Homo sapiens: one gene and its partners. The protein of the gene in region 1 purifies or fractionates together with the protein of each later gene. This does not show direct contact. Each region holds a gene or a part of one and is shown on either strand. Other genes may lie near its edges.

The links. The genes of interacting proteins can lie anywhere in the genome.
Region 2: the proteins of RAB40A (region 1) and COPS7B purify together in Homo sapiens (affinity purification with mass spectrometry; one large-scale study listed by BioGRID and IntAct). This does not show direct contact.
Region 3: the proteins of RAB40A (region 1) and AMBRA1 purify together in Homo sapiens (affinity purification with mass spectrometry; one large-scale study listed by BioGRID and IntAct). This does not show direct contact.

Annotation. Positions count from the first base shown.
Region 1 is NC_000023.11:103,512,990-103,516,489, forward strand, and holds part of RAB40A (ras-related protein Rab-40A), read right to left. Parts: intron 1-3,500.
Region 2 is NC_000002.12:231,796,445-231,799,944, reverse strand, and holds part of COPS7B (COP9 signalosome complex subunit 7b), read right to left. Parts: intron 1,087-3,500; coding exon 981-1,086; intron 1-980. UniProt on the Homo sapiens protein: Component of the COP9 signalosome complex (CSN), a complex involved in various cellular and developmental processes.
Region 3 is NC_000011.10:46,545,524-46,549,023, forward strand, and holds part of AMBRA1 (activating molecule in BECN1-regulated autophagy protein 1), read right to left. Parts: intron 2,978-3,500; 5' UTR 2,858-2,977; coding exon 2,723-2,857; intron 2,353-2,722; coding exon 2,294-2,352; intron 1,774-2,293; coding exon 1,590-1,773; intron 254-1,589; coding exon 81-253; intron 1-80. UniProt on the Homo sapiens protein: Substrate-recognition component of a DCX (DDB1-CUL4-X-box) E3 ubiquitin-protein ligase complex involved in cell cycle control and autophagy.

The sequences.
Region 1 (3,500 bases):
ATGTGTAAGCCAAGACAATTAGGTACTAGGGTGGTCCTAGAATTAAAGTATGAATCTATATACATGACATCCCCAGGTGGGCAGGTTTAGGGAAATTACAGACACCCGGGGGAAGGGCAAGCACGTCTCTCAGATGAACCTCACATTCAACAGCCAGATGACATTTCTACTTTTCAAGATTTTAGTGAAGGTCATGAGATGAAAGTGGTTTCACAACATGCTTCTTTCTGCACTAGCACAAATAAAGTCCTTTGAATTGACAGCAGGCTCCTCTGTTTACCCACCTAGTTGGCCAAGCAGTGACTGCCACAGGGGAGGGAAAGGGGAGGGACTGCATGAAACCACTAGGGCTCAGCACCACAGCTTCCAGAGGACAGAATCCTAACACAGCGGGATTCAGGGTAAAAGTAGAGTCACAGTCTCACTCGGCCCAGGGCCCCAGGAGTAATCAACACACGTATGAAGTACCTCACTTATACAATTAAAAATATTAAACCGAAAGAAAATATACACATGCCAATCACATGTAATAACAAATCATATCAAGTTCTAAATGGGATGCATACCTAAACTAACCGAGGGATTTGGATAGTAGATTGGACACATAAAAACCAACTCCTGGCAATCACTGACTTTTTTTCACCAAGACTGCCCAGATTAGTTCCAGATTTACAGACATAGATGTGTAATAGCATGAATAAAAGTTGGGAAATTATGCCTGGACAATGGGAAGATATTTCACATTCGAGATACACTGCAAATCCCAGCTACTTGGGAGGCTGAAGTGAGAGAAACACTTGAGCCCAGGAGTTCTAGGCTGTAGCGTGCTGTGATTGTGCCTGTTAATAGCCACTGCACTCCAGCCTGAGCAACATAAGGAGGCTAAAGAGCTCCTGTCTCAAGAAAACACACACACACACACACACACAGACACATTGCAACATTGTTTTGGGCTGGCTGTCACCTGGGAAACTCTTAAGACTTTGAACACATCACATTTTTTTTAAATGACTGAAAAATGATATGTACCAATTCTGTTAGTGCTCTCTATAGCATGTAAACTGGAAAAGTGGTGTGTCTGGTTTAGTAGCTCTGAAAGACAGTACACATGTAAAGAGGCATATATGGCAGGTCACAGTGTTGAGATATGAATGGGTATTTGTTCTTCTCATGTTTCTTCCTTTCTCCTTTCCGTCAGATAGCCAGACAACTACAGATAAAACACGCAACAAAATAACACCATATTTCATGCAGAAATATATACATATGTAACAAAGGATAAATAGTGAAAAGTCTAAATGCTTGTTAATGATTACTCCTTTGTAAGAAGGAGGCTAATGCAAGCTGAAGAAACTTTGAATTTCTTTTTTTTGTTGTTAAGACAGGGTCTTACTCTGTCACCGAGGCTGGAGTGCAGTGGTACAATTATGGCTCAGCACAGCCTTGACCTCCCTGGCTCAGGTGATCCTCCCACCTCAGCCTCCCAAGTAACTGGGGCTACAGTCCTGTACCACTATGCTCAACTAATTTTTGTATTTTTTTGTACAGATGGGGTTTCACCATGTTGCCCAGGCTGGTCTCAAACTCCTGGTCTCAAGTGATCCACCCGTCTCAACCTCCCAGAGTACAAGGATTACAGGTGTGAGCCACTGCACCCAGCCCAGACTTTAAGTGAATTTCAGTTGTACATATAATGGTTTATTTCTTAATATGAGTATATACAGTATATTCTTTTTGTAAGTTTCTTTATGTCTAAAATATTTCAGAACAATAAATGTTTCTATGACTAGTTCTGATTATAAAAATGATTTGTATCAATTTAGAAGTTGTGAAAAATATAGTTATGTCCAGAAATAAATATATAATTAATCAAGTAATCCTATTACTCATTAACTTAAAAAAAGAGTATTATGTTTGTATATTACCCCCATTATACTCTGTATGTATGCATCATAATGTACATTCATTGCATGTGAGTCTAATATATTGAGACATTCAAGATTTGCCAGACAGCATGAAATGAGTTATTAAATGATTCCAAGTTCAAACTAAACTCTGACTCTCAAGTCACCATCCCTAACCATTGGGATATACAATCTTTTTCTGAATAAGGGCTGTGTCCAGCTCAGGGAAAGTGTCTTCTAGACAAGGACAGGTCTGGCATTCAGTCCCCAGGTCTCCTGTTCAGTCTGTTGTACAGAATACTCATCTTTATGCTCTTTTATTCTGTACTGCCTCCTTTCTGGGGTTGAAACAAAGGTTTCTATTCCAGTGTCAAAATGGAAGGTAAAAAGGAATAGAAGAACACATCAAATAAAAAGTAACGAAGTGATTATTTGATCCCAAACTTCCACCATTCTCAGGTATCTCATCCACAAAGAAATGTCACCAAAGGTTCTATAACATATGAGTATGTTTGTTTCCTTTCCCAATGTTTCAAATTTAAATAATCTCTGTGGGATGTTCATGTTTAAGTCTTTTGAGGAAGGGAAAACAGAGGGGAGACCAAATATATATTTATTGAAGTATTATGTATCAGATGGTTTCTTTAGTTTTGCTCATTTCTCATAACACTCCTGTGAGGTAAATAGCAATATGCTAATTTTATTGATGAGCAAGGTAAGGTTCACTAAGTGTAACTCACTACCATACCATCATACAATAGAAAAGAGTGAGTACTCATCCCTCATCCCAACTTCATCACATTGCATAGCACAGAGATGGCACCTAACCTCCTACATAATATAGATGAGTGTGTGTGGTTCCCTTACATTCCCAAATACTCACTAAAATATAGTGATGCTATCCAGATTATGAAACAACATCCCTGTTAAAGATCAGAAGAGGTGAGATGGGAAGGAAGCAAACACTGGCACTGTGAATGACACACCAAATACCGTGCCAGCATCTTGACAAAGATCTCCCCTTGAACATGTCATAATGCTCTCTTGAGTGTAAGGATCAGGTGTATGTGTGTTTGTGGTGAAACATGCAAAACAATACTATGTTTTATTTAGGGAAGCTCTCATATGGAATAAAAGGATAAAGCAACATATGGGAATTATAATCATTGCTTTCTGGGTGCTGATTATCTATAGCAGAGACGGAAGGAGATACAATTAGGGAGGAGTAAAGGTTTTCCTAAGCTGGACTAATTTCATAGTTCTCTCTGTTTTTTATCTGAAACATTTCACAAGTAGCAGAGGTTTTAGGGGATATAGTTTTTATCATAAATACAGACATTCCCTGACTGTTGATGTTTTGACTTATAATTTTTCAATTTTATGATAGTGTGAAAGTGGTACACATTCAGTAGAAACTGTACTTCAAGTTTTAAATTTTGATATTTTCCTGGGCTAGCAAAACGCAGTATTATACTCTTGTGATGCTGGTTAGGGAGCAGCAGTGAGCCACAGCTCCCAGTCAGCCATGCAATCACGAGGATAAACTACTGAGACCCTATAGTGTACAGTGTTGCCAGGATTTTTTTGATATTGTAT
Region 2 (3,500 bases), on another chromosome or scaffold:
TGAGACAAGACGCTCGTCTTACAAATAGGACACAGGTTTTATTTTCAAGGAGTGCATATAACAGTATAGAGAATCACTCCAAATTTCACAAATCCCCCTTTGAAAGGCACCATCTACTCATCTCTTATGCTTCTTAGCTGGAATTACGGGTCCCACTCCGCCACTCTTAGACACCTGATTTTCAAAATTCATTAAGCATCATTAATACTTCAAACTCCATTCACACTAGAAAAGAACTTCCAATGCTAAGGAAAATCAGTGCAGGGCTCCAAATAAATTGTGAAGTGAGGTCACTTCATGTGTCAGGTTACAGGTACACAAATGCCCATAACGCAAAGGCTGGGGCCTACATCTGTCCAAGAAGCTAAAAGTTTCCTCAACAACCAGGTGTCACTAAAACCACACTTACATCCTCTTTACTTCACTTGCAGCTCATCTGCCAAATTTTATCCCTTTCTTCTTTCCGTATGAAACATGTCATGCATTTTACACATTTATAATATATATGTACAGTTCACAGAGAAAGAATAAAATGAAACTATGTGCCCACCACGCAACTTAAGAAGCAGAACACTCCCAGGGCCTTGAAGCCCCACATGCCCCTGCCCAGCTGTACCCCTCCCTCCACTCCACCTGGTAACTTACCACCATCCTTCTATCCATTTTTAAGATCCATCCCCAAACTCATTTTCTTTTGCTCTATAGCTGCAAAGTACATGTGTACTGAAACTACAACATTCTCTGTTCTCCAAGCCTGATTGATCACCCTATGCTGACCAGGAATCAGAAAAAAGAGACAGAACACCAAGAGCAGGAGCCGTGTCACACTCATCCCTGTAACCCAGCACCTAGCCCAGGCCCACTTGTTGGTGACTGCTTGTTTCATCTACACCAAGATTCGCAAAACAAAAACATAAACACTGCAAACGAATAAACAGGTATGCCTGGAGAGAGAAACAAATGTTCCTTTCCTTCCTTACCTCTGCTTCTACCTGCTGCTGAGTTCGGTTGTGGTTCTCTTTGTACTGGTTGGCTCTCAGAACTTGCTGCTCGATGCCCAGTAGAACTGCTTCACAGCCATCACACCTACAATGGAGAAAACCAGCCCTGAGCTGCAGAATGGCCTGGGAAGTCTCTTCCAGGCTCAGAAATATTCTTCCCCAACAGCTCTCCCCAGTATCTTACAGGGACCTCCTTTAATACTCCCTCTGCCACATCTCTTGCCCGTTCACTCCTTCCCAAAGACAAGCACTTCTAAATACATAATGCAGGACATTAGGAGACAAATATGGTAGTCTGGGGCTAGTTTCTTAGAATACAGCTTTAATTTTCAACTTTGTATCTCATGGAAGATGGTTTTGTAGCACATACGATTAAAGAAGGTAGGACAGGCCGGGTGCAGTGGCTCCCACCTGTAATCCCAGCTCTTTGAGAGGCCGAGGTGGGTGGATCACCAGGTCAGGAGTTCGAGACCAGCCTGGCCAACACAGTGAAACCCCATCTCTACTAAAAATACAAAAATTAGCCAGGTGTGGTGGCGGGTGCCTGTAATCCCAGCTACTTGGGAGGCTGAGGCAGGAGAATCACTTGAACCCGGGAGGCGGAGGTTGCAGTGAGCTGAGACCACGCAATTGCACTCCAGCCTGGGTGACAGAGCGAAACTCTGCCGCAAAAAAAAAAAAAAAAAAAAGAAGGTAGAATAGATTTTATAGATGGCACTGAGTAATCCTTTTCTCAACAGAAAAAAAAGATGTTCTAGGCCAGGCGCAGTGGCTCATGCCTGTAATCCCAGCACCTTGGGAGGCCGAGGCAGGCGGATCACCTGAGGTCGGGAATTCGAGACCAGCCTGACCAACATGGAGAAACCCCGTCTCTACTACAAATACAAAATTAGCCAGGCCTGGTGGCACACGCCTGTAATCCCAGCTACTAGGGAGGCTGAGGCAGGAGAATCGCTTGAACCTGGGAGGCAGAGGTTGCGGTGAGCTGAGATCGCACTATTGCACTCCAGCCTGGGCAACAAGAGCAAAACTGTCTCAAAAAACAACAAACAAAAAAAGATTTCCTAAAAGCATCCTGTTTTGAAGATTCCGCCTTTTCTCAGAAGTTTAAGTTACTTCCTAATTGCCATACCCCTCCTCCTATTTTCCCCACTATTAATTTTTTTAAAAATGAAAAAGTTGAAAGACTACAATGAATATCCCCATACCCTCCACTTAAGATCCAACAGTGTGAGCATTTTGCCATATATGTGGTAGCCCTCAGCCTATGAATTTTGTTTCAATCTACCTCCAGTGCCTAAACATGAGTTGTAAGAGTTTCTACTAGTAAACATCCCATGGTAACCAGTTAGTCTGGCACCTCTATGTCAAACATATTGGGGGCTTAAAAACAGGAAACCAGACTATGGACATAAAAAGCTGTGTCAGCCATCTCAAAAACAGAATAGGACAGCCAACTTTGGCAGGTTCAGAAACTAGATTTTGTGTGCCAGACCATTTTTGTGTTGGGGTATTTCTAAGTTTATTTCTTATTTATTCTAAGTTTTGTAAGCTATTGAAAACTTCCACTTGTGGCAGATGTTGTATAGAGAAGGTGTTTGGGGCTATATTTGGGACAGAACTTGGGGTGAGGGGTGAGCAACACATGTCCTGGGGTGTAAAAGTAGCTGAAGTGAGGGAAACTCAGGGGACATCAGGCCCCAAGGAGTCAAAGTGGCACTGCTCCTCTCTGGATATGCTTCTCTCGGGGATGAGCAGAGATTCTCTCTCCCTCCCGAACCTGTGTACAAAGCTCACCGGGTCTGCTTCATGGCTTCCAACATGCCACGTGCCTGCCTGGGAACACACTCTCCTCACCTCCAGGTATACTCTAACCCTGGCCTTCCTTCAAAACTGAGCTAAAACTTCTCCAATCAGTCCATCTGGCTTTATAAGCCCCAAATAATTTAAATCACTCCACAGTGAATCCTCGTAGAATGTGAGACAGCTCTTACAAATATCAAATTCCATTAAAACAGAGAAAACACAAATGTCCCAATGCTTTTTATATACCAGAGTATAGTTATCAGATATTCTTTGTATGAGTCTGTATTCCAAGTTAAAATGACCCACTCCTTGTCTTCCATGTCCCTCACGGTGTTTTACAAACATTAGCCCAATATGTTACTGATTTTGAACGTAAGTTCTTTTATCCGAAGAATCTTATAAACATGTTAACTTCAACAGGGATAGAAAAAATAATAAAAACAAAGAAAGAATCTTACAAACACTAGCCTTCCTGAGTTTGGTCAAACTTTGAGCGTGAGTTTGGAAAGGGCAGGACTAGCCTCACACAGCTAGGACACATAGGCTCCACCTGCTAACCCTGGGCATTTTATAGCCCACTTTTAAATAGCTCCCAGTTGCATTTAAGGAAAGAACTATTTTACAACCAAGGCACCAGGAGGCCTGAAATGACTCCTGTTATCACACAGCTGTGATCACAAATGTAGCTCCACT
Region 3 (3,500 bases), on another chromosome or scaffold:
CTTCCAAGGTGACAGCCAGTAGAATGTTCTCTATCACGTCAGTCCTGTGCCAGACAATGCAGATGGGGCAGCGCACTCACCGGACCCGTTCCATCTCACTAGCTGTCTTCACCACAGCAAAGGGTTCCCGTCGACTCCAGTCCCAGAAGTGGATCTCATTGGCAGTGGCAATCAGCAGGAGCTGAGCCGTAGGGTGGAAAGCCAGGGAGGCAATGGCATTGTTGCTATCTGTGAACCAGCTTTCACTGCCACCCTGTGAATGAACCAATTCCAGATATTCTCAGGTTACAAGCTACCAGCACACTGGGAAGTCAATTTCAAGAAAGGTCCATTTAAGGTAAAATGACTATGTCTAGGGACTACTTTAAATACATCCTCTGTAAAAAGATGTAGAAGATCAGCGATCTGGTAGTGCCACTAATTTATCAGATAAATACTATACAATCAGTTCAGTTCTTCAAATTAGTCACAATCTACAAGCATTAAGCATATATACACAGTTCCTATTTCTTTTTTTTTTTTTTTTTTTTGACAGGGGGTTTCATTCTGTCACCCAGGCTGGAGTGCAGTGGCACAATCTCAGCACACTGCAACCTCTGCCTCCTAGGCTCAAGCAATCCTCGCACCTCAGCCTCCCAAGTAGCTGGGACCACAGGCGCATGGCACCATGCTCAGCTAATTTTATATAATTTTGTGTATAATATTTTTGGTATAATATCCTGCCCAGGCTGGTCTCAAACTCCTGAACTCAAGCAATCCTCCTGTCTTGGTCTCCTGAAGTGCTAGGAATACAGGCGTGAGCCACCGCGCCCAGCCCACAGTTCCATGCAAAGCCTGAGAAAAACTCAAGCTCGGTGCACAACATGGTGCAAGACAACCCGCTAGCCAGTTACTAGGACAAAGAGGATCTTGCTTTGATGATCATGATCGGAGTACAGGAATATCTGTACTTAGGCAAAGATGCCCTAAGACAACAGAAATCCAACCTGAACATATCTTAGAGCCTCCTGTACTATGTCACAACGGGCTGAAGGAAGCAAAAGTAGATGTTCATCTTAGCAAGAATGGAAGACAATCTCAGGGCATGCTTAAGCTATTGCAAAAAAAAAAAAAAGGAATGGAAGACAGGGAATTAGACTTCCTATTAATTAAGTGGGCAATGTCTACAACAATATATTCAGATGTAGTCCTAAGAATCTGGCTAGGCTCTTCCAGAATTAAAAAACCAATGGTAAACAAGTCTCTGCATTTAGAATACCAAAAGAAGCCGGGCATGGTGGCTCATGCCTGTAATCCCAGCACTTTGGGAGGCCGAGGCAGGCAGACCACTTGAGGTCAGGAGTTCAAGATCAGCCTGGCCAACATAGTGAATCCCCGTCTCTACTAAAAACACAAAAATGAGCCAGGCATGATGGCACATGCCTGTAATCCCAGCTACTTGGGAGGCTGAAGCAGAAGTATCACTTGAACCTGGGAGACGGAGGTTGCAGCGAGCCAAGATCACACCACTGGGCAACAGAGCGAGACTCCGTCTCAAAAAAAAAAAATTAGAACACCAAAAGAAAAGGGTATCTTAAGGAAATACTCACGTGTAAATCCCAAATCCTAACCTCCCCATCTAGGCAGCCAGAAGCAATAAGGCCTGAGATGGTGGGATGAAAAGTGACACACCATGGAGTACGGCGGTGTCCAATCAGGGAATGAACACACTTGCCAGTCTTCACCTCCGTAATATAGATATTATGGTTCACATGGGTGGAGGCTAAGAGAGTCCTAGAAAATCAAAGAGTAGAACTGAATTCAGAAGCATGTGGAAGGGTAACCAATCTTATCAACTTTGGACGACATAGAATATTGATGCTACCTGCCAATCCCAACATGAAAGAAACTAAGCTTTGTATGTTAGGCAGTATATCTACAAACAGAAATATTCTGATCTTTAAAAGCTTTTGGCTTGTCCACACTGTCCCCAAATGACACATGCCACATTCGGAAAATATTTTTTCCCACTGGAAAAACCATCATACCACTGGTGAGCTGTATCACACAGGCAAATGATTGTTATTGAGAAACTTTCCAAGTTTTGATCCTCTCAGTTTCCTTTGCTTGTTCTCATGATTTTTCAGGTTAGCACTGCTCATCTACTTTCTTTCCCTTTCCGACACGGGGCCAAAGTGCTGTTCATACAGTACTTCAGAGAGACTTTAGGGACTGACTTGGAAGATCAAGCCAGGCCAAATATACAGAAAGCACTGTTATCACAAATCTTAAGTTATAGATAAATACTGAGTACCTGTCTGGGCTGAAGGCCAATAAGAAGGTAGAGCGTGGACTATCCGGCAGTTCTACTCTCTGGGAGACAAAAAAAAAAAAAAAGTTAAAATACATGATTTGTAGACCATGGTTCACCGTATCTCAAAAGCACATTAACCATTCTAGATTAGCATTCACAGTGTAGGCTTAAAAACTGGAGACAATGATCAAGCTACAAATTGAGAGAGATAAACCTAAATTACCTTCAGGAAAACTGTCTAGCTCTAAAGGAAAAAGATATTTCTAGCACATTAGTTCTTTCAAATTTACAAACAACTCCCTAAGTCAGATATGTCAACTCTCCCACACAAGATAAATATATCCCAACTCTCTGCTGTTAACCCATTCTAAGGTCTCATTCTACCATCACCAGCACAAATCCTATGTGAAATATAGCCATTTTCCTTACCTTGCCCTCCCATTTCATCCACCGGGTTTTATCTTCTACCAGCTCCTGCAGAAGCCGCTGAGCTCCCATGGCCCGAGCACCCCGTTCTCGCCCCCAGAGTATCCGGACAGCATTCTTTTCTGGGACAACCTTCATGGCGCTCAGTAGCCACTGTCACACCAGGCCCAGGAAATGAAGGAGCAAGTAACAGCTCCAACACACTGAAGCAGCTAAAATGAGGCCATACAGGTCCTTGTAAGTTGTCCTCATGGAAATCTTAAGGAACAAAGAATAATGTCAAAGAACGACTTCTGCAACGAGAAGCTTCTAATTGCAAATACAATTCTAGCTCAAAAGGGAAATTATACTTTTCCTATTTAATGACACTTTCTCAGAAAAGACCCTTCCTCCCAGAATTTTTCTTCCAAAAATATTTCATACTCTCATATTCTCCATAGCTCAACCTTGTAGCTAAAGAAAGGATCAGGCCAAGCACAGTGGCTCACGCCTGTAATCCCCGAACTTTGGGAAGCCAAGGAGATTGGATTGCTTGAGGTCAGGAGTTTGAGACAGCCTGGCCAACATGGTGAAACCCCGTCTCTACTAAAATACAAAAATTAGCCGGGTGTGGTGGCAGGCACCTGTAATCCCAGCTACTCATCAGACTGAAGCAGGAGAATTGCTTGAACCCAGGACGCAGAAGTTGCAGAGAGCTGAGATAGTGCCATTGCACTCCAGTGCCTGGGCGACAGAGCAAGACTCCATCTCAAAAAAAAAAAGATTATTTAGGAGTACCTTT